Linked DNA regions of Homo sapiens: region 1 is linked to region 2. A link means that fine-mapping ties the variant in region 2 to the expression of a gene that starts in the linked region. Tissue or cell type: cerebellum. Region 2 holds a variant in brackets; the other region holds the start of a gene. All regions are shown on one strand. Distances are from middle to middle.

Evidence for each region. PIP is the estimated chance that this variant, and not a neighbour inherited with it, causes the effect.
Region 1: MPHOSPH6 starts here. The variant in region 2 is fine-mapped to the expression of MPHOSPH6 in cerebellum (GTEx, PIP above 0.99).

What each region holds. Positions count from the first base shown.
Region 1 is chr16:82,162,858-82,173,245 of GRCh38, reverse strand. MPHOSPH6 (M-phase phosphoprotein 6) reads left to right here and starts at 3,022. Exons shown (of 5, transcript NM_005792.2): 1 at 3,022-3,121; 2 at 9,052-9,164. The coding sequence starts at 3,071. RefSeq lists a silencer at 2,887-3,046, cis regulatory regions at 3,093, 7,253, 7,390, 10,043 and enhancers at 3,021-3,165, 7,181-7,325, 7,318-7,462, 9,971-10,115.
Region 2 is chr16:82,141,018-82,153,917 of GRCh38, reverse strand. It overlaps MPHOSPH6 (M-phase phosphoprotein 6), which reads left to right. Exons shown (of 5, transcript NM_005792.2): 3 at 2,404-2,494; 4 at 4,515-4,609; 5 at 5,055-5,756. The coding sequence ends at 5,187. Among named protein-coding and RNA genes, the nearest start is that of MPHOSPH6, 23 kb to the left of the region's middle. RefSeq lists enhancers at 1,040-1,334, 2,131-2,275 and a cis regulatory region at 2,203. The variant T/C (reference allele first, on the strand shown) is at 6,207.

The DNA of each region.
Region 1 (10,388 bases), 21 kb before region 2:
TTAACACATTATTGATTGTGAGATCTATCCTCTGTGCTCTGCAATTCAGGTGCATAGAAAGATCAAGGAATTATCTTGTCAGGTAGTTTTCAAAGTTAAAATTACACTATTACTCTTAAATCACTTCTCATTTATAACATGTTGAGGGGTGGGAAAAGACTTGGGGGATTCATTTTAATTATAAGGATTTTCACCATCAAATAGAAAAATAGAATTTTGAGTGGCAGGTTGAAGAAGGTGAGCTTTATCTCTCAGACAATAACAGATATTGTAAATTTTAGAGTGAAAGAATAACATAATAATGTCAATGTTTCAGAAAAACAAATCAGAACACAGACTGGTACAACAGGGGTCCATAGAGAAGGTGTGGCGCTTCCAGCATCCTTACATGATAGATATATGCTCTTATTTCGCCGGGAATGCTGTTTTCCTCTTCTGAAGCTGACAAGACATGTGTTCATCCTAGTTCAGTCGCCCCTTAGTTTCCCAAGTGCAGAAGGCAGACTGAGTCACTTCTCCCTTCACCTCTACTCTCACAGCAGTTCTTTGAGAATCCCACAGAAAAACCAAACTTATAGAGACAGAAAGTAGTCGTGAGGACCTGAGGAATTAGTGTTTAATGGGAACAAGAGTTTTCATTTTGCAAGATGAAGAGTCCTATGGTGGTAAAAGCAGCATAACAATGTGAATGATTGGTGGGCCTTTTCCCTGATTAACTCCTCTCTACGTTTAGGAGAGTCCTCATTTCCAGGCCAGAATGGTTTAGGTACCCTCGTTGTACCCTTTCATGACCCTCAAACTTTCCTTACCGGGCTCTCATCACAACTGTCATCTACAGCTAATTGTATGGTATATTAGTCTGCTACGGTTACTATAAGAAAACACTACACACTGGGTGCCCTATACAGACTGGTTGTGATTTTCTCACAGTGCTGGAGGCTAGAGGTCTAAGATCAAGGTGTTGGCAGGTTTGGTTTCTCCTGAGAGATTTTTTAAATTTTTTTTATTTTTTTGGCTTTCAGATAGTCTTTCCTTTATGCAAACACAACCTTGGTGTCTGTGTCCAAATTTCCTCTTCTTATGACGACATCAGTCAGACTGGATTAGGGCTCACCCTAAGGGTCTTGTTTTAATCACCTCTTTAAAAAGGACTGTCTCCAAATACATTCACATTCTGAGGCACTGGGAGTTGGAACTTCAACATATGAATTTTGGGGGATGCAATGTGGCTTATGATTAACCTCTACTGTTTCCACTTGTAAAACTTTTAACACGGACTTTGTCTTGTTCATATCTGAGGACCTTTACAGTTGATGCTGTCTTCTGAGCACACTCTACCTCCAACTCTTCATAAAACACGTTTTTCTCAACTTTCAAGCCTTAGCACCATCATCTGACAAGGGCCGTTCCAAACCACCTGGTCTAAAGTAACCCTAAGCGTTACTCTGTCACATCACTGTTTTCTCTCTTTCATAGCAGTCGCCACTTACTTACGTCCAGAATATCAGCTTCAGGAAAGGTGGGGATATGTGTTTTTACACGCTATTATACCCCCGGCATCTCACACACAGTCACAAGTGAATGAGATTCTGTAGCCACTTGGTACATTACAATGATTTTATTTACCCCTGGGAAAACCTAAAGGGCTTTTAACATCCAAATCGGTGTTTGAATTTCAGCTCTAACATGGATTAGCTGTGTGAACACCAAGTGCGTTACCCACTCTGTGTCTCAGAATCCTTAACAACACGATGACAATACCTTCTTTCCGGTTCTTATGGGGATTAAGTGAACTAATTAGCCCTAAGGTGACCAGGTCAACAATCTGACGTAGAACTCATGGTATCAGCCGAGATGCTATTAGCTTGAGGGTGTTCCAAAGCGTCGGACCTGGGAATGGTTTTCGAAAACGTGTTTAGGTGGTACCCAGAGCATTAAACACCAGGGTAGGAACGCTACCCTATTTTCAGTGGTTTTTTAAATTCTTTTTTGTTTTGTTGTTTTGTTTTTGAGACAAAGCCTCACTCTGTAGCCCAGACTGGAGTCCAGTGGCGGGATGTCAGCTCACTGCAGCCTCGACGTCCCGGGTTCCAGTGATTCTCCAGCCTCAGCCTCCCAAGTAGTGGAGACCACAGATCCGTGCCACCACACCCAGCTATTTTTGTTGTATCTTTTGTACATTTTTTGTATATTTTGTATATATTTTTTGTATGTATATTTTGTATATTTTTTGTGTATATATATATATATATATATATATATTTTTTTTTTTTTTTTTTTTTTTTTTTTTTTTGTAGAGGTGGGGTCTCCCTATGTTGCCCCTCGCTATGGTCTTTTCAATTCTTTGGATCAAAACCAGGCTTTGTTCTCATTCATGTGTCTTTGGCACCCATCCCTGCCTCCATCCCTTGCCATTTCTTGAGATTCTTCTGTTTAGCAGAGATCACTCGGCCAGACACGCATCGGCAGCAGCCTGGGAATGAAGCCAGCCTGCCTGGGGCGGCCCCCGCCGCGCTCCCCCGGGACTCCGGGCTGCTGTGAGGAAAGCAGCAACTCGTGGGGTCCTGGTGAAGAGAAAACGACCTGGACCCTGCAAAGCGACCCAGAACAAAGGGAGCCCGCCACCCACGTTATGAAGACAAAACACGTGGGTAACACGGCCCAGGCGGGTGGCAGGCGTGGCGGAAACCTCTCTGAGGCTGGCGAGGACTACTGAGTGTGGAGGGGGTCCCTGAGGAAGGGAGTCCCCGAGGGAGGATGGGCCTCCGAGGGGGCCAGGCCGACGTCCCGGGAAGGCGACCCGCGGCTCGGGGAAGCCAAGTTCTGGGTCGTCCTCTGACTTCGGCTTTTTTGCGGTCTGCCGCGCTCATCCCCGCGCCCGCCACCCCGCGAGCTTACCCGAGCCTCTCAGTCAGCAGAGCGCCCGCTGAGTGGCCGCGCCCGCGCGCAAGACACAGGGGAGGGGCGGGGCGGGGCGGCGCGCACTACGCGAGGGACGCAGCTGCGCACGCGGCTCCGCGCATGTGCGGTGAGGCTCGCGGCCGGAGTGCGGCGCTGGGCGGAAGCTACCATGGCGGCCGAGCGAAAGACAAGGTTGTCCAAGAATCTACTGCGCATGAAGGTGCGGGGACGCTGAGAGCGCCACTCCGGGCGGTAGGGGCACCCGGTCCTTCCAACCTGGCCGGGGCCGAGGCGGCGGGCGGACAAGGGACACCAGAGAGGCCTCAGAGGGCTTCCAGCTCTCGTGCTCATTCATTCACTTAGCGCCTGCTCTGCACTGTTTACTGGGAACCAGCTTACGAATTAGGCCGACTCTCTCAGGAGGCCCGCGGGCGGATGGGAGCTTGAGTACACAGAAGCAGTCAGGGTACAGCTTACCCAGTGCAGTGAGGGTAGAAGCGCTGGGGACCTTGGGGACTCACCGAGCTTCTCGAGAAGTTGTTGCTTACTTATATATGCAATAAATATGATATATGGGAAGTGTAACTCCTTAGCTGGGTAATTTAGGTAAATTCACTTCTTTCTCTGAATATCTCTTTTCCTCATCTTTAAAAAGAAGAGCATTAGGCTACATGAGTTCAAGCTCCTTTTTAATTTTGATAATACTTCTTTTAGTAGAGTTCTTCAGAGAAACAGAATCAACAAGATGTATATGTGTATATATGTGTATGGAGAGAGGGGGTATTTTTAAAACTGGATCACACGACTGTGGAGATGCAAGTCTAAAATCTGCAGGGTGGGCCAGTAGGCTGGAGACCCAGAGAAGTACTCAGTCCAAGTCCAAAGACAGTCTGCTGGCAGAACTCCCTCTTCTTCCAGGGAGAAGAGGGTGAGTCTCGCAGGGTAGTCTCTAGGTTACTGGGAGGGTGGAAGGCACAGCGTCCTAAACTAGGAGAAACTGAGTTCAGAAGTCTGAGAGGCAAGAAAGAAAAAGAAAACCATGGAAATTTCCAAGAATTAGAGACAATTCAGTATGTCTGGAAGGCAAGTACTAAGAAATGGGGTTGCAGAGTAGGCAATGGTCACAACGTGCAGGGAATTTGAGGCCAGATTAAAGATATTTTCCTTTATTTTGTGAGCAATGGAAAGCTATTGAAACGGGGAACAGTATCAAGAAAATGGCAAATATTTATAGTACTAGACAATGATTGAAGTGGTTTGCGTATATTAACCTATGCAATTCACATAATGACACTTTGAGGTGACTACAGGCAGTAACTCTCTTCTTACAGCTAAGGCAACTGAAACAGAAATAAGTAATTTACCCAAAGTTACACAGCTAATAAGTAGTGTAGACAGGACGGGAATTCAGGCAGTCTGGCTCCAGAACCCTGGCTCTTTATTACTACTCTGTACTCTGTGATGCCTGTCACTAAGCACTACTTCTAGAGAGTAGCAAACTGTTACATGTCATGTTTAAAGAGGTGGAATTTCCAAAAGAGGGAAGGAAGCATTCATAATGTTTTGAAAGATAGGCCATTCGCAGTGGCTCATGCCTGTAGTCCCAGCACTTTGAGAGGCTGAGGTAGACAAATCGCTTAAGCCCAGGTGTTTGAGACCATCCTGGGCAACATGGTGAAACCCCATCTCTACAAAAAATACAAAATATTAGCCAGGCCTAGTGGCACGCACCTTTAGTCCCAGCTACTTGGGAGGCTGAGGTGGGAGGATCACTTGAGCTTGGGAGATCAAGGCTGCAGTGAGCTGAGATGGCGCCACTGCACTCCAGCCTTGGTGACACAGGGAGACCCTGTCTCAAAAAAAAAAAAAAAAGAGAGAGAGTAAACATTATATGGGCAAGATTTGAATGGAGTTGAGCTAGGATGGAGTTAGGGATGAATGGGTGAATGAGGGTGGAGGACAAATTGCAGCATAACTTAGAGTTTGTCAAGCACTTTCATGCATATTAGCAAAATTTGAATCTTTACTGAACAGAGTTTGATTTTATGGTTGGTAATAACATTAACTTCAGAGAAGTGGAGTGAATTGGCCAAGCAGATATTGGAAAGATTTTAGCAGTTGTTTTAGCTCTTGGAATAAGCCAGATGATGTACTGGGTGACTCAGGCTCAAACTAAATATCCGAGTTGCAACTAAGAAGAAAGAAATTAACTTAAATGTCCACCCCCACCAAATGGGGAGACTCAACTGGACGTTGGAAGCAAAGGAGAAGGAAAAAGATCACCCACATTCTCTATTTGGTTTAGCAGCTTTGGTCATTGATAAGAAAAAACTTACTGGCAAGATAGCAGGAGACACTGTCTATACTGATAGAACAGAGTATACTGTGAGAAGGCATGGAGTAGCTGCACTTAGGGTGCCTTAACCAGAGCTAAGTCCTATATAGCATGGGTCCCCAACCGCCAGGCCATGGACCAGCACCAGTCCATGACCTGTAAGGAACAGGCTGCACAGCAGGAAGTGAGCAGCGGGCAGGCAAGCGAGCGAAACTTCATCTGTATTTACAGCTGTTCCCCATAGCTTGCATTACCACCTGAGCTCCGCCTCCTGTCAGATCAGTGGCAGAATCCTAGATTCTCCTAGGATCAGAAACCCTACTGTGAACTGTGCATATGAGGGATCTACCTTGCGCTCTACTTACGAGAATCTAATGCCTGATGATCTGTCATTGTCTCCCATCACACCCAGATGGGACTGTCTAGTTTCAGGAAAACAAGCTCAGGTCTTCCACTGATTCTTCATTGTGGTGAGTTGTATAATTATTTCATGACATATTATAATATAATAATAGAAACAAAGTGCACAATAAATGTAATGCACTTGAATCATCCCTAAACCATCTACCCTTCCCCTCTCCACCACCCGTGGAAAAATTGTCTTCCAGGAAGCCCATCCCTGGTGCCAAAAAGGTTGGGGACCACTTTTTAGGCAAGTATAAGAGGGTTGAGGATTTAATCCTGACTCACTTCAATGCCTCTGACTTGGTCAGCCATTGCAGGGTGATCCTAATGGGAAGAAGAAAAAGAAGGATGTGGATGGAAGGTCTTCCAGTATGGAATGGTTGTAGAGGGTGCTTATTTGTGATTTTGGCACTGTTAGACTCTCAGAACAGGGCTTGGCAAACTTTCTGTAAAGGACCATATGATAAATATTTTGGTCTTATGAGCCAGACAGTCTCTGTTACAACTACTCAGCTCTGCCAGTGTTGTTCAAGACCGAATGACCATGGTTGTGTACCAGTAAAACTTTATCGACGACAACAGACATCTAGCCTGAGGACTGTATTATGCTGATGCCTGCTCTGAGTCCTCACTAGTTTTGGAATGTGTTCTGAAATGCTCTAGAGTAGGAGAATCGAACTTGTACCTAAGTCTGGAGGTGCTTGATTCATATTCACAGGGAGTTCTGTCCTTTCTATGTGTACAGAACATATGTATATGGCTGTTGTATACCAAAAGAATAGGTACATGACTAAATGGGAGAAAAAAGGGCAGTTGGGCAGTATTGATGAGTTTTACCACGAGGAATATTAGTGATGAAATGAGGCATCTGCATTTAAAGAAAACCATCCCAGAAAGAGAATCTGGAAAAATAAGATAGGTCTAGGTTCATTTCCATTCAGAGAACTTTCACTGAGTGAGCTCTTTTGTGTACCAGGGGTGCCGCCTAAGTACCAATGATACAAGATGAACAAGAGTCATGGTCTATTCAGAATCGTAGTCCTGGGAGACACCAAAGCAGCACGATGGTGAACAATATTCCAGTGTTGATGAGGCTGTCTTGAGAATGTGCTTCTTTATAGGAGCAGACCTAGGAAGAGCCAAGCCAAATGCCAACCAGGAAGTCTTACCAAAGGACACACACTGTAGGCTTAAAAGAGTAAATATTTTGCCAGGCAGAAAATGGAAACGTGTTAAGTCGCAAAGGCAAAAGGACTGGGAAGTATAGCGTGCACATTCCAGAAACTGCAGTTCTTTCCTGGGATGAGGATGTACACACAGGTAAAATGGATGACGACTGCAAAACACTAGTCTGCAAACTTGTTTTCTTTTACTTTTTACTTAAAATAGTGATAGATTCACAGGAAGTTGCAAAAAGTGTACAGGGATATCCCGTGCGTCCTTCATGCCACCTCCCCTAGCGGCAACATTTTACAACACTAGGATATGATAAAGAGCCAGGACATTGACAGTGAGCTGACGCAGATTTCACCATTTTACACGCACTCATTTTGCGTGGACGGTTGCTGGGTCATATGGTAAGTGTATGTTTAGTTTGCTAAGAAACTGCCATGCTGTTTTCCACAGTGGCTGTACCATTTACTTTCCCACCAGCTATGTTTGAGTGATCAGTTTCTTCACATTCTCTTCAGCACTTGATGTTATCACCATCATGTGTTACTTAACACATGATTTAACAACAGGGATACGTTCTGAAACATGCATTGTTAGGTGATTTCATCATTGTGAGAGCATCATAGGGTTCATCTACGCAAACCTGGATGGTATAGCCTACCACACACTTAGGCTATATGGTACAGCCTGTTGTTCGTAGGCTGCAAACCTATACAGCATGCTACTGTACTGAATACTGTAGGCAGTTGTAACACAGTGGTGTCTGTGTATCTAAACATATCTAGATATAGAAAAGGTACAATAAAAATGCAGCATTGTAATCTTATGGGACCACTGTCATATATGGGTTCCATCGTCGACCAAACATCATTTTGCAGTGCATGACTATTTTATTCGTGAACGTTAAGGTTTTTTCATTTAACTTAGTAGTCATTGTTAAAGTGCTTATGCCTAAAAAGGCTTATGTTTGGAAAAGGTGGAATAGAAGGAGGAGAAATATGGGACCTGGGCCGGGCGCAGCGGCTCACACCTGTAATCCCAGCACTTTGGGAGGCCGAGGCGGGTGGATCACAAAGTCAGGAGTTTGAGACCAGCCTGGCCAAAGTGGTGAACCCCCGTCTCTACTAAAAACAGAAAAATTAGCTGGGTGTGGTGGCAGGCGCGTAATCTCAGCTACTCGAGAAGCTGAGGCAGGAGAACCTCTTGAACCTAGGAGGCAGAGGTTGCAGTGAGCTGAGATCGTGCCACTACACTCCAGCCTGGGCGACAGAGTGAGACTCTGTCTCAAAAAAAAAAAATAAAAAAAAAAATAAAAAAGAAATATCGGACCTGAATAAGGGAAAGAAATGGGGGATACATAGAAACCAGTGGAAGCTGAAACCTAACTGCTAGGAGGCTTCTGGGTATTTTCTGATTTTATTTTCTCCAGTGTTGATATTTTATCTTGTTGCTGTGGTTAGCCTCTTAAGTTTGTTCACTTGTTCCCTGAAGAAATACAGGTATTCATGCTAGTGAGAGACTGGCAGCAGGACTGTTATTTACTGCCATATTTTGAGTCAACTTTCTGCAGATTTGATAAGAGCAGCTCAAGAGTTTAGCAGCATTTCAGAGGAAAAATAAAAACGAAGAGCAGACTTATAGATGTACCTTTGCTTCTGCCTACATTTATCGGGCTCTTACTGTGCTTCAGTCATCATATTGGGACAGATGAAGGAGATGACCCAGACACCCAGTCCTTAAGGTCTCCAGAAAAGATAGATGCTCAGAAAGTTCAGATGTGGTGAGTCTATTGGAGGGAGCCATGGAAGCATTTAGGACAGAGGCACTGATTTTACTGGCACTCATAGAAGTCTAGTAGCTTTACCTATGTCAGACGGGCGAGGAGTTGGCCAGGTGGAAGAGGATAAGAAGGGCATTTCAACCCCAGATCAGCAGGTGCCAAAGCCAGTGGGCTCTGTGGGTGAGCACAAGACCTTCGAATGTGGTGTCTTAGCCCTTAAGTTTTCCGAAGGAAATATACATTGTGCATTTTCTCATGCCCTGACACAAGCCCTCATCGTCTAGTGTAAAGTTGGAAGGGTAGAGCTAAACCGTTTGATCACTTGCCCCAACCCTCAATCTTGAGATGGGTTCCATAGATAAATGAAGGAGAACAAGTAGAAGAAGAAAATTATTTGGGGTTTCCTCAGTTCTAAAATGGGAAAAGTTTCTGACATTGATTTTGTTTGTTTTCACAGTTTATGCAAAGGGGACTGGACTCAGAAACCAAGAAACAACTAGAAGAAGAAGAAAAGAAAATCATTAGTGAAGAGCACTGGTACTTGGATTTGCCAGAGCTTAAAGAGAAAGAGTAGGTTTATTAAAATTGATACTGATGATGCTTGTGGCATTCAGAAGGAAACTCCTGGTAAATTTAACTCATCATTCCGGTGACATAAAGCCCATGAAATTGTTTCTGTTCAGTTTATTGATTTAGTAGCACAACTAAAAAATATTAAACCTATAGAAGTTGTACATGGATTTATACATTTTTACTACTCCCCCTCCCAGCCACTATTTTGTCCTTTTTTACATTGAATGAAGGAACCTAGCCCACATATCTCTGATAGTAACAGCAGACCTTTGGGGAAGCTGTAATGTTCTCTCTATCACCTTAAGTTCTAAAGATTAGGGGTGTACTTCAGGTCTCTCCAGTTTTGTTTCGGTTACAGAGTTCATTAGGTTGAGCATTTTAAGGCAGGTCAGAAGTTTTTGTTTCTTCTTTTAAATTGTTACTACTTGTAATACCATCCATTTTAGCTAACATTTACTGAATCTATAGTGTGTACCAGGAACTGGGCTAAACACTTTACATCTGTAGTTATTGAATCTTCGTAGCAAACTTAGGAACTGCCTCCTATGATTCTGTCACTTTGTAGTTGAGGAACTGAGCTTAAGGGAGGGTAACTTGCCCAGCTTCACCCAGCTAGTCAGTGCTGAAGGCTGGGGTAGACAGTTTCTGGCCCACCCCTAAGCTTGGCTGGTGCCTGATCAACAATTTTGAATGAAGGAGTGTTGGATTTATTTCATCCATTAATTTAGCTGAATCCTTCTGGAAGCTATTTTTCATTTTTCCCTGATACTTTCCTCACCTTAGTAAGCTCTGTTGTATGGTAGTTTTACTTAAACTTTGGTCAAATGACTGAAGATGCTGCTTACTGTCTTGAGGCACATTTATGTGTTTCCATTCTGTACCTGATGTTTGGGCTTTGATTTGGAATGTTATATTCCCCTGTTCATTTGGCTGACCTCTGGACATTGTTTGAAGGTTAGATACCCTTCTCTAAAGATAGAAAGTATGTCCCACCAGGAGGGATCGGGAGAAGGTACTTTTTTTCTCTGCTTCTCAGAGGAAGCAAGATGTTGGTGAGGAGGGAGAAGATAGTGCCAGGGGCAGGGTCACAGGGAGGAAGGGACCTTTGCTGCTGGAGCTATAATTTACTTTTATGCCTTAAGTAAACTTGCCAAAGTGTTCCTTCCAGTTGTTTATTAAAGAGCAGGACTGTTTCTATCTTGTTTCCAGTATTTTTCCCCT
Region 2 (12,900 bases):
GACACACAGAAGGCCTTGTAACCGTGGAAGCTTCTGGAGGGATCCCAGGCCTACTAACATCTGGATTTTGTACAGAACTGTAGGAGCATAAATTCTGTTGCTCTAAGCCACCAATTTTGTCAGCTTAAATTTGTTACAGCAGCCACAGGAAGCTAATGCAGCAGGTGTTCTCCCAGAAATCATCTCTCCAGCAGTTACTTTTTCCCTAAGTCTAAAGACTCATCCTGCACATGTGCAGCTTCATGGTCAGCCAAAGATTCAAGGGAACCCAGTATGCAGGTCCTGAATTCCATAGTGTAGCTCCCTTTCAGTGGTATCCTCACCCAGATATTCCAGCCACCACCATAACCCCAAACTTCAGTTTGTGCCTTTATTTTTTTCAACTAAAGCCCCAATGAAACAGTTTGTCTCTTAAGCTCAGCAAGACAGGGTTTTGTGTGAGTCCCCCACTCCCTGCTCCACAATCTGGAAATTGCCTCCAGGCAGAAAGCTCCGCATTCATGGGGTCTACTTCATTTGATTTTCTTCTCTCAGGCATCACAGTCATATGCTTGGATTTGTTCATTATCTGAAAATGGTCATTTTATATTTTGTCCTGTTTTATATAATTATGGTGCAGGAAAGCTAGTTCCATACCAATTACTCCCCTACAGCTAGGGATGGAATAACCTGCTTTATTTTCATCCATTGTGTGATATAAATGTTTCATGTTTCATTCATTATTTGGCCCCTCTTTCTATAGACTGTAACCTCCAGGAGAGCAGAGGCTCCTTTTTTTTCTTTTTTTTTGGAGGTGAGTGTTTGACACTGTCACCCAGGCTGGAGTGCAGTGGCACAATCTTGACTCATTGCAACTTCCACTTCTGGGATGCGAGCAGTTCTCCTGCCTCAGCCACCTGAGTAACTGGGACTACAGGCATCCGCCACTGTGCCCAGCTGAGGCTCTTTTACTGGTGGCTGTTTCCGCAGTTTGATTTAATACACACAGTTTGGTTTAATAAGTGTTTGTTGCATAAGGGAATCTTTATGAGAATCAGAGCCTACTCCGGCAAACAAGCCTTAAAAGCCACATGTTTGCTTTCCTGCCATGCTTTAGGGTTTATGGCCAGGCTGGAGATAGATATGTCACCTTGGATTTACGGTCATGTGGTGGTGACTCAGCAGAGAAATTCTGCTGCAGACAGAAACATCCTGGTCCAGGGAACGCAACCTGCCCCAATGCCATCAGTGGTGTCGTGCTCAGCCCCGTCAGCAGCAACAGTGGTTTTCCTAGGGTCATTCTCTAGCATGATTTTGGTTCTGGTGCAACCACCTAGCGACCGTTATTTCTGCCCGTCTTCCAATTCTGCCCCTTCAGCCTTCCCGGTGATTCTGAGATGCCCAGTACAGCTGGCTCTTTGTGTCACAGATTTTGATATCTACAAGGGGTCCTGGAACCAGTCCCCCTTGGAAATGAAGAGCCTACAGTGTTCTTACAGTAAATTCCTTCTCTGCTGAAGTCATCCAGGGTCAGCCTTTGGTGTTTATAGCTAAGAGCTCTGACTGATAACACTGTTAAAGCTGCTCAAGCCTCTGATTTCCCACTACTTCTCCTGGATTTGTAATAAGAATTTGGTGGGGGCCAAAATCTCAGAAGTCACCACTAAAGAACTTATCCATGTAACCAAAAAACCACCTGTTCCCCAAAAACTATTGAAATTTTTTGAAAAAAATCTGTGTATAAGTGCACCACACAGCTCAGACCTGTGTTCAAGAATCAACGTAAATGCAAGTACAAAAAAGACTGGAAGGAAATATTCAAATATACTAACAGTCCTTTTTATCCTCTTGGTAAGGAGCTTACAGGCAGTTTATAAACTCATACTTTATTCTGCTTTCCAAATTACGTTCCTTAAAATGTGCTGCTTTGATAATTAGAGAATGGAATTTTTGAAATCCCTGAGAACGAAAGACAAAATATGCCAGAAACTTTATTAAAATGATTTGGAGTAGTGTGTCACTGTATACTGTATGTGTATTTTTACATACATATTATTTCCTTTCTGAAAAAGAATTGGAAAAAAATATGGTGAGGGGATGTAAACACAAAAGAAACTTTGCTTCAACTTTGGCAAATTCAAGTTTATTGTCAATACTTTAGATCTTTATATTATGTAGATATTTATGCAAATTAAATGTGGTGTTTAAGAGAGGCTGTGCCTCTAGCTTGCTGCTCTTGTCTCCTAATGCCTTTGCTGACCAAATTAATCAGATTTTATTTTTAACCCTAAGTTAGAAATCTTACTGTATTTTTACTTCATTCTACTGAGAACCATAGGTTGATTATTTTTTTTATTCAAAGTGTTGGCTTTTGTTTGCTGTGCTTTATATATGGAGAAATGCTATTTTTATTTTCCCATTTAGGAGTTTCATAATAGAAGAGCAGAGTTTCTTACTATGTGAAGATCTTCTCTATGGAAGAATGTCATTCAGAGGATTTAATCCTGAGGTTGAGGTATTAAATATAATTGCTTCAAATTAAAAATTTTTCCAATTGAATTTTTTTCTGCTAATAATTGGGCTTAGGTGTTTCTCCACCAGGTACCATTTCTACTCATTATATAGAAAATAACAAGTCTTGAAATATCGCCATAGCTATTTAAAGAAATTGGAGGCATTGCAGTCTAGTTTTATGGTAGAGGTGAGTAGATAATTTCATATAGCAGTATACAGCCCTTGACAGAGCCACCATAAATATTAAAATTTCAAGTTGTGTCTTTTACAGGAACGTCAAGATTTTATTCATATCATGCTATTATGAAAAGTTATTTTCTGGCACCTATACATGTATTTTTTCTAACGGAAAAATGTTACTTTAGAATTATGTCATTTGACTTTTTAATGGACTGTTGTAATCCAAGCTTGTAAGTAGATTTTTAAATGAATCCTTTCGACAGTTTGTTTGAAAAATGAATATTTGCCTTATAACTGAGCTATTCATTTGAATTTTCCTGCTCCAGGATAGAGAAGCAGACCTTTATTTAACAAATATTCATTAGAACTCTGGCTCATATGTTAAAAGCCATCCTATCAAGTACTTGATGAACCAAATGGACACATGAGATATAAATCTTTAGTTTGGTAAATATTACTTGAAGCCAGTGTTTCTTGCCCTTGGCAGTGTTAACATTTGGGGCCAGATAATTCTTTGTGGTGGTGGCTTTCCTAAGAGAATGACGAACCACATCCCTGTCCTCTGTTCTCTACCAACTAAATATCAGTAGCACACACACACCCCACCCTCCTACCCAGCTGTGACAACCAAAAATGTTTCCAGACATTTTCACAGGTTCCCTGGTGGGGAAAATCATCCCCAGTTAAGAACCACTTCTCTAGGAGCCACAGTTAACTAAGCCAATTGCCAGAGTTTATTGAAAGATTCTAGGTTAGTTTTCCTTTTCTTTTTTGGCGGAGTGGGAGGAGGCATGTGTGATAATTAAGGTGTTATGTTAGAAGTGTTTGTTTTTAATATATGCTGGTCTCGCTTTGACTTTCTTTAATTAAGCTTCAGATTGAGAAGGAGAGGGGCTGGGCAGTGGGGTGAAGAGGGAAGAAAAAGGCAGGGATTATGAAGATGTGGTATTCAAAGAGTAGGGTTTGGATAGGCGAGCATTCCAAAGTATGTCTGCTGCAATGGGAAAGGAGAGGTGCCACTGCCCGCAGAAATTGATGGGGGGCAGGGACGGGTGTTAGAAAATGGCCCTAATTACTGGATTCTGAAACACTGAATACACTCCCCCTAGGAAAAGGTTTTAAACTATTATCACTCTTTTAAGCCTTAGAAAAACTAGTTAAGACTGATTTCTCATCTTTTATTCCTTCTCCTCTTGCTAAAAAGAAGAGATTACACATTTAAAAAAAAAAAGGTCAGAGGATAATTATCACAAAAAGGTTTATGTGAAAGAGTTGGAGGAGAGACCCTGTGGTGCATGGATGTTACATGGGATGCATTATCCACTCTAAAGTTTAGGAGGGTAAGGCTGAGGTGCAGATTCCCTCCATTAAACAGGGCCAGCCTTCCACTTCTCCCACCTCCTCCACTCACCACCACCACCACCAAGAGATGCATTTAAAATTATTACTGACGACTAGTGTTTCTTCCATATGGCTTAAAGATGGGTGGGGGAAGTTCAGGGAAAATCTGAAAGTTTATTATTTCTTCCCCCACTCACCGGAATGTGTCAGCAGTATGCCTGCTTTAAATATGAGTAACTAATACTAAGATTTATGATCTTAAATACACTTTAAATTCACCCTAAGTATAATTCAGTGGGGCTTTGCCTTACTATTTTTTTGACTCAGAGCTTACTTCTCTTACACCATTGTGGTATCAAGTATTACAGAGAGTCCCTTATCAATTTTGACTAGTTCTCTAGATTATTTGACTTCAGTTTCTCTGCCTTCAGGTAAGTTTGACATCAGTTCCTTTCACAAGCGTTTTCTAGCCTGAAGGTCAGCACTGGTGTATTTTTCAGAAATTGATGCTTCAGATGAATGCTAAGCACAAAGCAGAAGAAGTTGAAGATGAAACAGTAGAGCTTGATGTGTCAGATGAAGAGATGGCTAGAAGGTAACCGTGCTGCGCAGCAGCCTTCTAATCTGGACCTAGCATTCATTGGCTCTCCCAGGAATGCTCCTCTTACCCCACAGTGCACGGCAGCTTTCAAGGGAGTCCCCCAGTAGGACGATGACTGTGATCGGCCTTCTCTTAATGGCCTACGGGGGCCACAGACCTGTCTCAGGCTGCCAGTTGAGGGCCCATTTCCAGAGCTGCTGGAAATGTGTATTTTAAAATGTACATCTCTATTTATTTAGGGTAATGCAAACACCAAAATGGCAAGGAATTTAATCACTCTTAGAGAAGTTCATAAATTGTTAAATCAGATGGTTTCTTTTAATGATAGTTTTCTTTTTCGTAATCTTTTTTATTGCATATTTGGTCTGATATTCTTGACAAGGCTTGATCCCTACCTTTTTATTTGAAATTAAACGTGTGCTGCCTGTCCTCTTGACAGATATGAGACCTTGGTGGGGACAATTGGGAAAAAGTTTGCCAGAAAGAGAGACCATGCCAATTATGAAGAAGATGAAAATGGAGACATAACACCAATTAAAGCAAAGAAGATGTTCTTAAAGCCCCAGGATTAAGATGGATGCCTTAAGCGATGGCCCAGGGGTGCTTGGTGGAAGTCAGCAGGGCATCTGGAGCTCATCCCAATGGTGTCTCTATAGTTATTAATACTGTAACGTTTACTTGTAAAGAGATTATCATTTTAGAAACATGCTGTTTTTGAAACAGATGTGTGATGGATGTTGTACATCCTTTGCTTCTTGGTATTCATTCAGAGTGGATTTTTAGCCCCTGATCTACAAATGTACATTGTTACAGGGCTGCTTCCTAAAGATTTTTTTTACCTCAGGTTTCTCTTAATATAGTTCTCCAGTCACTGACCTTGAATTGACTTACATAAACTACTGCCAATGTTTAAATTGCCCTTATGTTTATATTTATTATGTCAAGCCAATTCGTACATACAATTTGGAATCAAATGTCATAAGAATTTATTATATAAATTTATCAAGAATAAAAATGCCTCTCCAGCCTTAAGTATTTACATGCTCCCAGGTCATTGTCAGTTTATGGTATTATGTTGTTTTATTTAAAGCATTGAATTGATAGAAAAATTTGCTCTGTAATAAAAATCTACTTTCACATACTTTTTATATTTTCTTGTACTTTCAAATAACAATTTTAGTCTAATTCAGTAATATAACTTTTTTCCAAATAATAACTTTAAAAAACAGCCATTGATCAGAATATAGTGATGTATTAGGTTGAACCATAAGAAATTGCCTTTTACAGGTCAAAAATAACCTTTAGTTTCTTACGGTATAACCCAACAGAATTTACCACTGACCAATGGTACCATCTCCTAGTCTGAACTCTATTCTAAATGCTAAGTACAGAAAGAAGCACATAGAATTAAGTGTGTGTATGTGTGTCTGTCTTTCTGTCTGCAGATAAGTACCTAGGACTTCTGAGAACTACTGATTTAATTTCGCTCCCAGGAAGTGAATGAGGTACATGTCTCCTCTCTCCTCAAATCTCTGTAAGGAAGGTTTTATTGCTCTGTGACCTCAGTTCTCTGGTGAGTTATGAGAAAAGA[T/C]AGGACTTTGAAGTTAATCTGGCCTTTTTTTTTTTTTTCACTGTGAGTATGAGAATGATGCACCTCCCAACTCTGGGAAGTAACGAGTTCTTCCCAGTGCCTTACCAGCACCACAATCCACGGACTTACTACCGGACTTACTACGTGTCTTATGTACCTGTCTGCACAGTCGACTTCTGATTGACAAACTCATTTCACCATAAAAGAAGTGGGGTAATGGGGGCTTATGCCTCTTGAGTGCACTGGTCTTAGCATATCCCCCATCACCCAGGAATAGCGGGCATAATAGGACGATGGAATGGTCTGCTGAAGACACATTTATGGCCCTAGGTGGAATACAACTCCATCTGACAAATGTAACGTGTGCTTTGATTGAGTGACCACTCCATGGGACTGTTCTTGGTCAGAATGCACGGTCTGGAATCAAGCAGAGGTAGATGGAGTGGTCCCACTCATGGGTGATTTGTTTCCTGCTTCTCTTGAGTTCCCAAGGGAGGAGTGCTCCCGCTAGGGGACACAACAATGGCTCCATTGAGACAGGAATTGAGACTATCCAGTCATTTCAGCACTGAACCAACGGGCTGGAGGTTACTGTTTTGGCTGGTGCAAGTGATCCTGGCAACAAAGGGGCATTTATGTCGTTCCTACACAGTGGATGGTGAGAAAGGCATCTGGAACCCAAGGATTCTCTAGGGCATTTTTAGCACTTCCCATGTATGCCACTAACTTCTAAGGGACAGCTATAACAGTCTCAAAGAGGGGAATGATTGAGGTCCTTTAGGGAATGATGTTTTGGTACACCCCACCCCGTATAAATCCTGAGAAGCTGAGCTACTGGCTGAGGGAAGAGGAACCATGGGATGTGTAAGGAAAGAAGGAAATTTATTATTTCAGCCTTATGACTAGCCAGTTACAGAAACAAGTTACTGCAACTGTTACATGGAGGGTTGGCACTCCATATCAGTGAGTTCCAGATATCGACTTGACTAACCACAGAAAGTACTCAAAAAATAAAAATACAATAAAAAATAATATAAAGTACAATACAGTATGACAACTACATAGCATTGACATTGTATTAGGCATCATAAATCATCTAGAGGTAGTCTAAGGGATACAGGAGGATGCACGTAAGTTATATGCAAACATGCTGTCTAAGGTAAGGGGTTTGAGCATCTGTGGATTTTGGTATCTGCAGGAGGTCCTGGAACCAGTCCTTGGATACCCAGGGATGACTGTTTTCTTCTGCGTGTGTGTGTGTGTGTGTGTGTGTGTGTATGTGTGTGTACTAATTTCTTCTCTTACCTCCTTATTTTGTTTTCTTAGGGCGTTAATTTCGCTATTTAGTCGTAGGGTAAGAATATTAGGTGGGTTTGTGATTAATTTTAGGTGTAATTAACTGATAGAATGTCTGCTGGGACTTTGTGTCTCCTCATTTTGGAGAAAGGCTGAGGGTATCTTGTACAAAGGATGTTTGCAGTGTATTCGGTAGAAACAGTTGTTTTCCTTGTTGCAGGAAGTTTAGGTTAGAAGTCTGTGGATGCTAAATGGCCGAAAGGGCAGGTTGTGGCAGATTCAAAGCTGTTGCTTCACAGAATCAAACTCACCCTCTGTATTCAGCTTTTAGTGCCGGGCTGGGACTGAGCAAACCCCATGTCTCCTATGCAGCTGACTTAATTAGGATCAGCCAGTGGAGGCCCAGCTGGAGATGGCGAGGCTAGAGGAAGAAGACAGGATGTGTCCCTTCTCTCTGCTTCCTCTTCTTTTCCTATTTCTTTGTCACCCTCAAAACACCTGCACCCCAGCAGAGGCTGGTATTCCAGGAAGAGTTGTTAATATGAGTTTAGTCTTCCCAACACTTGCTGCAACAGCCTCATAGCAACTCCTCAGAGACATCACCAGCACCAACCACCCTGTATTCATTCCGACATCTGTCCAGCGCCTTGGCCACAGGGTTCCCCCACCCAACCCAGAGACACTGATATTAGCAGAATAACAACTTAATGTCAGAGGTCTGAGTTTTGGCTCTTTGGGGCCCCTCCCAAGTTTCAAAAATTGAACAATTTCCCTCTCTTCCCTAGGAGTCGCAGCTTCCTGCATGATACCTCAGTGTTTTCCTTTTGCCTCGTTTAGTTCTTTAATACCCAATTAACAATTCTTAATATTTAATTTCCTCTGTTAAAATAAGGGTGGCTTTTAATCTCCTGACTAGATTTTAACTGTTACCGACATCCTAAAGCAATAATATCTGAAATCATGGGTTTGCTAAGCTTAAAATGCTAATTTTTCTAATCTGCATTCAAGCGTATAATGATTAAAGTTGAAATGTTTATCTATCTACAACTTCCTGGAAGTTATCTCATGAATCCAGGAATTAGTATGCACTTTTTAAAAAACACTGCCTCTGTATTTTTTTTTTTTTTAAGTTTGAGTCAACTTTATTTTTTTTAATTTTTTTATTTTTTTATTATACTTTAAGTTTTAGGGTACATGTGCACATTGTGCAGGTTAGTTACATATGTATACATATGCCATGCTAGTGCGCTGCACCCACTAAATCGTCATCTAGCATTAGGTATATCTCCCAATGCTATCCCTCCCCCCTCCCCCCACCCCACCACAGTCCCCAGAGTGTGATGTTCCCCTTCCTGTGTCCATGTGATCTCATTGTTCAATTCCCACCTATGAGTGAGAATATGTGGTGTTTGGTTTTTTGTTCTTGCAATAGTTTACTGAGAATGATGATTTCCAATTTCATCCATGTCCCTACAAAGGACATGAACTCATCATTTTTTATGGCTGCATAGTATTCCATGGTGTATATGTGCCACATTTTCTTAATCCAATCTATCATTGTTGGACATTTGGGTTGGTTCCAAGTCTTTGCTATTGTGAATAATGCCGCAATAAACATACGTGTGCATGTGTCTTTATAGCAACATGATTTATAGTCCTTTGGGTATATACCCAGTAATGGGATGGCTGGGTCAAATGGTATTTCTAGTTCTAGATCCCTGAGGAATCGCCACACTGACTTCCACAATGGTTGAACTAGTTTACAGTCCCACCAACAGTGTAAAAGTGTTCCTATTTCTCCACATCCTCTCCAGCACCTGTTGTTTCCTGACTTTTTAATGATTGCCATTCTAACTGGTGTGAGATGGTATCTCATTGTGGTTTTGATTTGCATTTCTCTGATGGCCACTGATGACGAGCATTTTTTCATGTGTTTTTTGGCTGCATAAATGTCTTCTTTTGAGAAGTGTCTGTTCATGTCCTTCACCCACTTTTTGATGGGGTTGTTTGTTTTTTTCTTGTAAATTTGTTTGAGTTCATTGTAGATTCTGGATATTAGCCCTTTGTCAGATGAGTAGGTTGTGAAAATTTTCTCCCATTCTGTAGGTTGCCTATTCACTCTGATGGTAGTTTCTTTTGCTGTGCAGAAGCTCTTTAGTTTAATTAGATCCCATTTGTCAATTTTGGCTTTTGTTGCCATTGCTTTTGGTGTTTTGGACATGAAGTCCTTGCCCATGCCTATGTCCTGAATGGTAATGCCTAGGTTTTCTTCTAGGGTTTTTATGGTTTTAGGTCTAACGTTTAAATCTTTAATCCATCTTGAATTGATTTTTGTATAAGGTGTAAGGAAGGGATCCAGTTTCAGCTTTCTACATATGGCTAGCCAGTTTTCCCAGCACCATTTATTAAATAGGGAATCCTTTCCCCATTGCTTGTTTTTCTCAGGTTTCTCCAAGATCAGATAGTTGTAGATATGCGGCGTTATTTTCGAGGGCTCTGTTCTGTTCCATTGACCTATATCTCTGTTTTGGTACCAGTACCATGCTGTTTTGGTTACTGTAGCCTTGTAGTATAGTTTGAAGTCAGGTAGCGTGATGCCTCCAGCTTTGTTCTTTTGGCTTAGGATTGCCTTGGTGATGCAGGCTCTTTTTTGGTTCCATATGAACTTGAAAGTAGTTTTTTCCAATTCTGTGAAGAAAGTCATTGGTAGCTTGATGGGGATGGCATTGAATCTGTAAATTACCTTGGGCAGTATGGCCATTTTCACGATATTGATTCTTCCTACCCATGAGCATGGAATGTTCTTCCATTTGTATCCTCTTTTATTTCCTTGAGCAGTGGTTTGTAGTTTTCCTTGAAGAGGTCCTTCGCATCCCTTGTAAGTTGGATTCCTAGGTATTTTATTGTCTTTGAAGCAATTGTGAATGGGAGTTCACTCACGATTTGGCTCTCTGTTTGTCTGTTGTTGGTGTATAAGAATGCTTGTGATTTTTCTACATTGATTTTGTATCTTGAGACTTTGCTGAAGTTGCTTATGAGCTTAAGGAGATTTTGGGCTGAGACAATGGGGTTTTCTAGATATACAATCATGTCATCTGCAAACAGGGACAATTTGACTTCCTCTTTTCCTAATTGAATACCCTTTATTTCCTTCTCCTGCCTAATTGCCCTGGCCAGAACCTCCAACACTATGTTGAATAGGAGTGCTGAGAGAGGGCATCCCTGTCTTGTGCCCGTTTTCAAAGGGAATGCTTCCAGTTTTTGCCCATTCAGTATGATATTGGCTGTGGGTTTGTCATAGCTCTCATTATTTTGAAATACGTCCCATCAATACTTAATTTACTGAGAATTTTTAGCATGAAGGGTTGTTGAATTTTGTCAAAGGCTTTTTCTGCATCTATTGAGATAATCATGTGGTTTTTGTCTTTGGCTCTGTTTATATGCTGGATTACATTTATTGATTTGCGTATATTGAACCAGCCTTGCATCCCAGGGATGAAGCCCACTTGATCATGGTGAATAAGCTTTTTGATGTGCTGCTGGATTCGTTTTGCCAGTATTTTATTGAGGATTTTTGCATCAATGTTCATCAAGGATATTGGTCTAAAATTCTCTTTTTTGGTTGTGTCTCTGCCCGGCTTTGGTATCAGGATGATGCTGGCCTCATAAAATGAGTTAGGGAGGATTCCCTCTTTTTCTATTGATTGGAATAGTTTCAGAAGGAATGGTACCAGTTCCTCCTTGTACCTCTGGTAGAATTCGGCTGTGAATCCGTCTGGTCCTGGACTCTTTTTGGTTGGTAAGCTATTGATTATTGCCACAATTTCAGATCCTGTTATTGGTCTATTCAGAGATTCAACTTCTTCCTGGTTTAGTCTTGGGAGAGTGTATGTGTCGAGGAATTTATCCATTTCTTCTAGATTTTCTAGTTTATTTGCGTAGAGGTGTTTGTAGCATTCTCTGATGGTAGTTTGTATTTCTGTGGGATCGGTGGTGATATCCCCTTTATCATTTTTTATTGTGTCTATTTGATTCTTCTATCTTTTTTTCTTTATTAGTCTTGCTAGTGGTCTATCAATTTTGTTGATCCTTTCAAAAAACCAGCTCCTGGATTCATTAATTTTTTGAAGGGTTTTTTGTGTCTCTATTTCCTTCAGTTCTGCTCTGATTTTAGTTATTTCTTGCCTTCTGCTAGCTTTTGAATGTGTTTGCTCTTGCTTTTCTAGTTCTTTTAATTGTGATGTTAGGGTGTCAATTTTGGATCTTTCCTGCTTTCTCTTGTGGGCATTTAGTGCTATAAATTTCCCTCTACACACTGCTTTGAATGCGTCCCAGAGATTCTGGTATGTTGTGTCTTTGTTCTCATTGGTTTCAAAGAACATCTTTATTTCTGCCTTCATTTTGTTAGGTATCCAGTAGTCATTCAGAAGCAGGATGTTCAGTTTCCATGTAGTTGAGCGGTTTTGAGTGAGATTCTTAATCCTGAGTTCTAGTTTGATTGCACTGTGGTCTGAGAGATAGTTTGTTATAATCTCTGTTCTTTTACATTTGCTGAGGAGAGCTTTACTTCCAAGTATGTGGTCAATTTTGGAATAGGTGTGGTGTGGTGCTGAAAAAAATGTATATTCTGTTGATTTGGGGTGGAGAGTTCTGTAGATGTCTATTAGGTCTGCTTGGTGCAGAGCTGAGTTCAATTCCTGGGTATCCTTGTTGACTTTCTGTCTCGTTGATCTGTCTAATGTTGACAGTGGGGTGTTAAAGTCTCCCATTATTAATGTGTGGGAGTCTAAGTCTCTTTGTAGGTCACTCAGGACTTGCTTTATGAATCTGGGTGCTCCTGTATTGGGTGCATATATATTTAGGATAATTAGCTCTTCTTGTTGAATTGATCCCTTTACCATTATGTAATGGCCTTCTTTGTCTCTTTTGATCTTTGTTGGTTTAAAGTCTGTTTTATCAGAGACTAGGATGGCAACCCCTGCCTTTTTTTGTTTTCCATTTGCTTGGTAGATCTTCCTCCATCCTTTTATTTTGAGCCTATGTGTGTCTCTGCACTTGAGATGGGTTTCCTGAATACAGCACACTGATGGGTCTTGACTCTTTATCCAATTTGCCAGTCTGTGTCTTTTAATTGGAGCATTTAGTCCATTTACATTTAAAGTTAATATTGTTATGTGTGAATTTGATCCTGTCATTATGATGTTAGCTGGTGATTTTGCTCGTTAGTTGATGCAGTTTCTTCCTAGTCTCGATGGTCTTTACATTTTGGCTTGATTTTGCAGCGGTTGTTCCTTTCCATGTTTAGCGCTTCCTTCAGGAGCTCTTGTAGGGCAGGCCTGGTGGTGACAAAATCTCTCAGCATTTGCTTGTCTGTAAAGTATTTTATTTCTCCCTCATT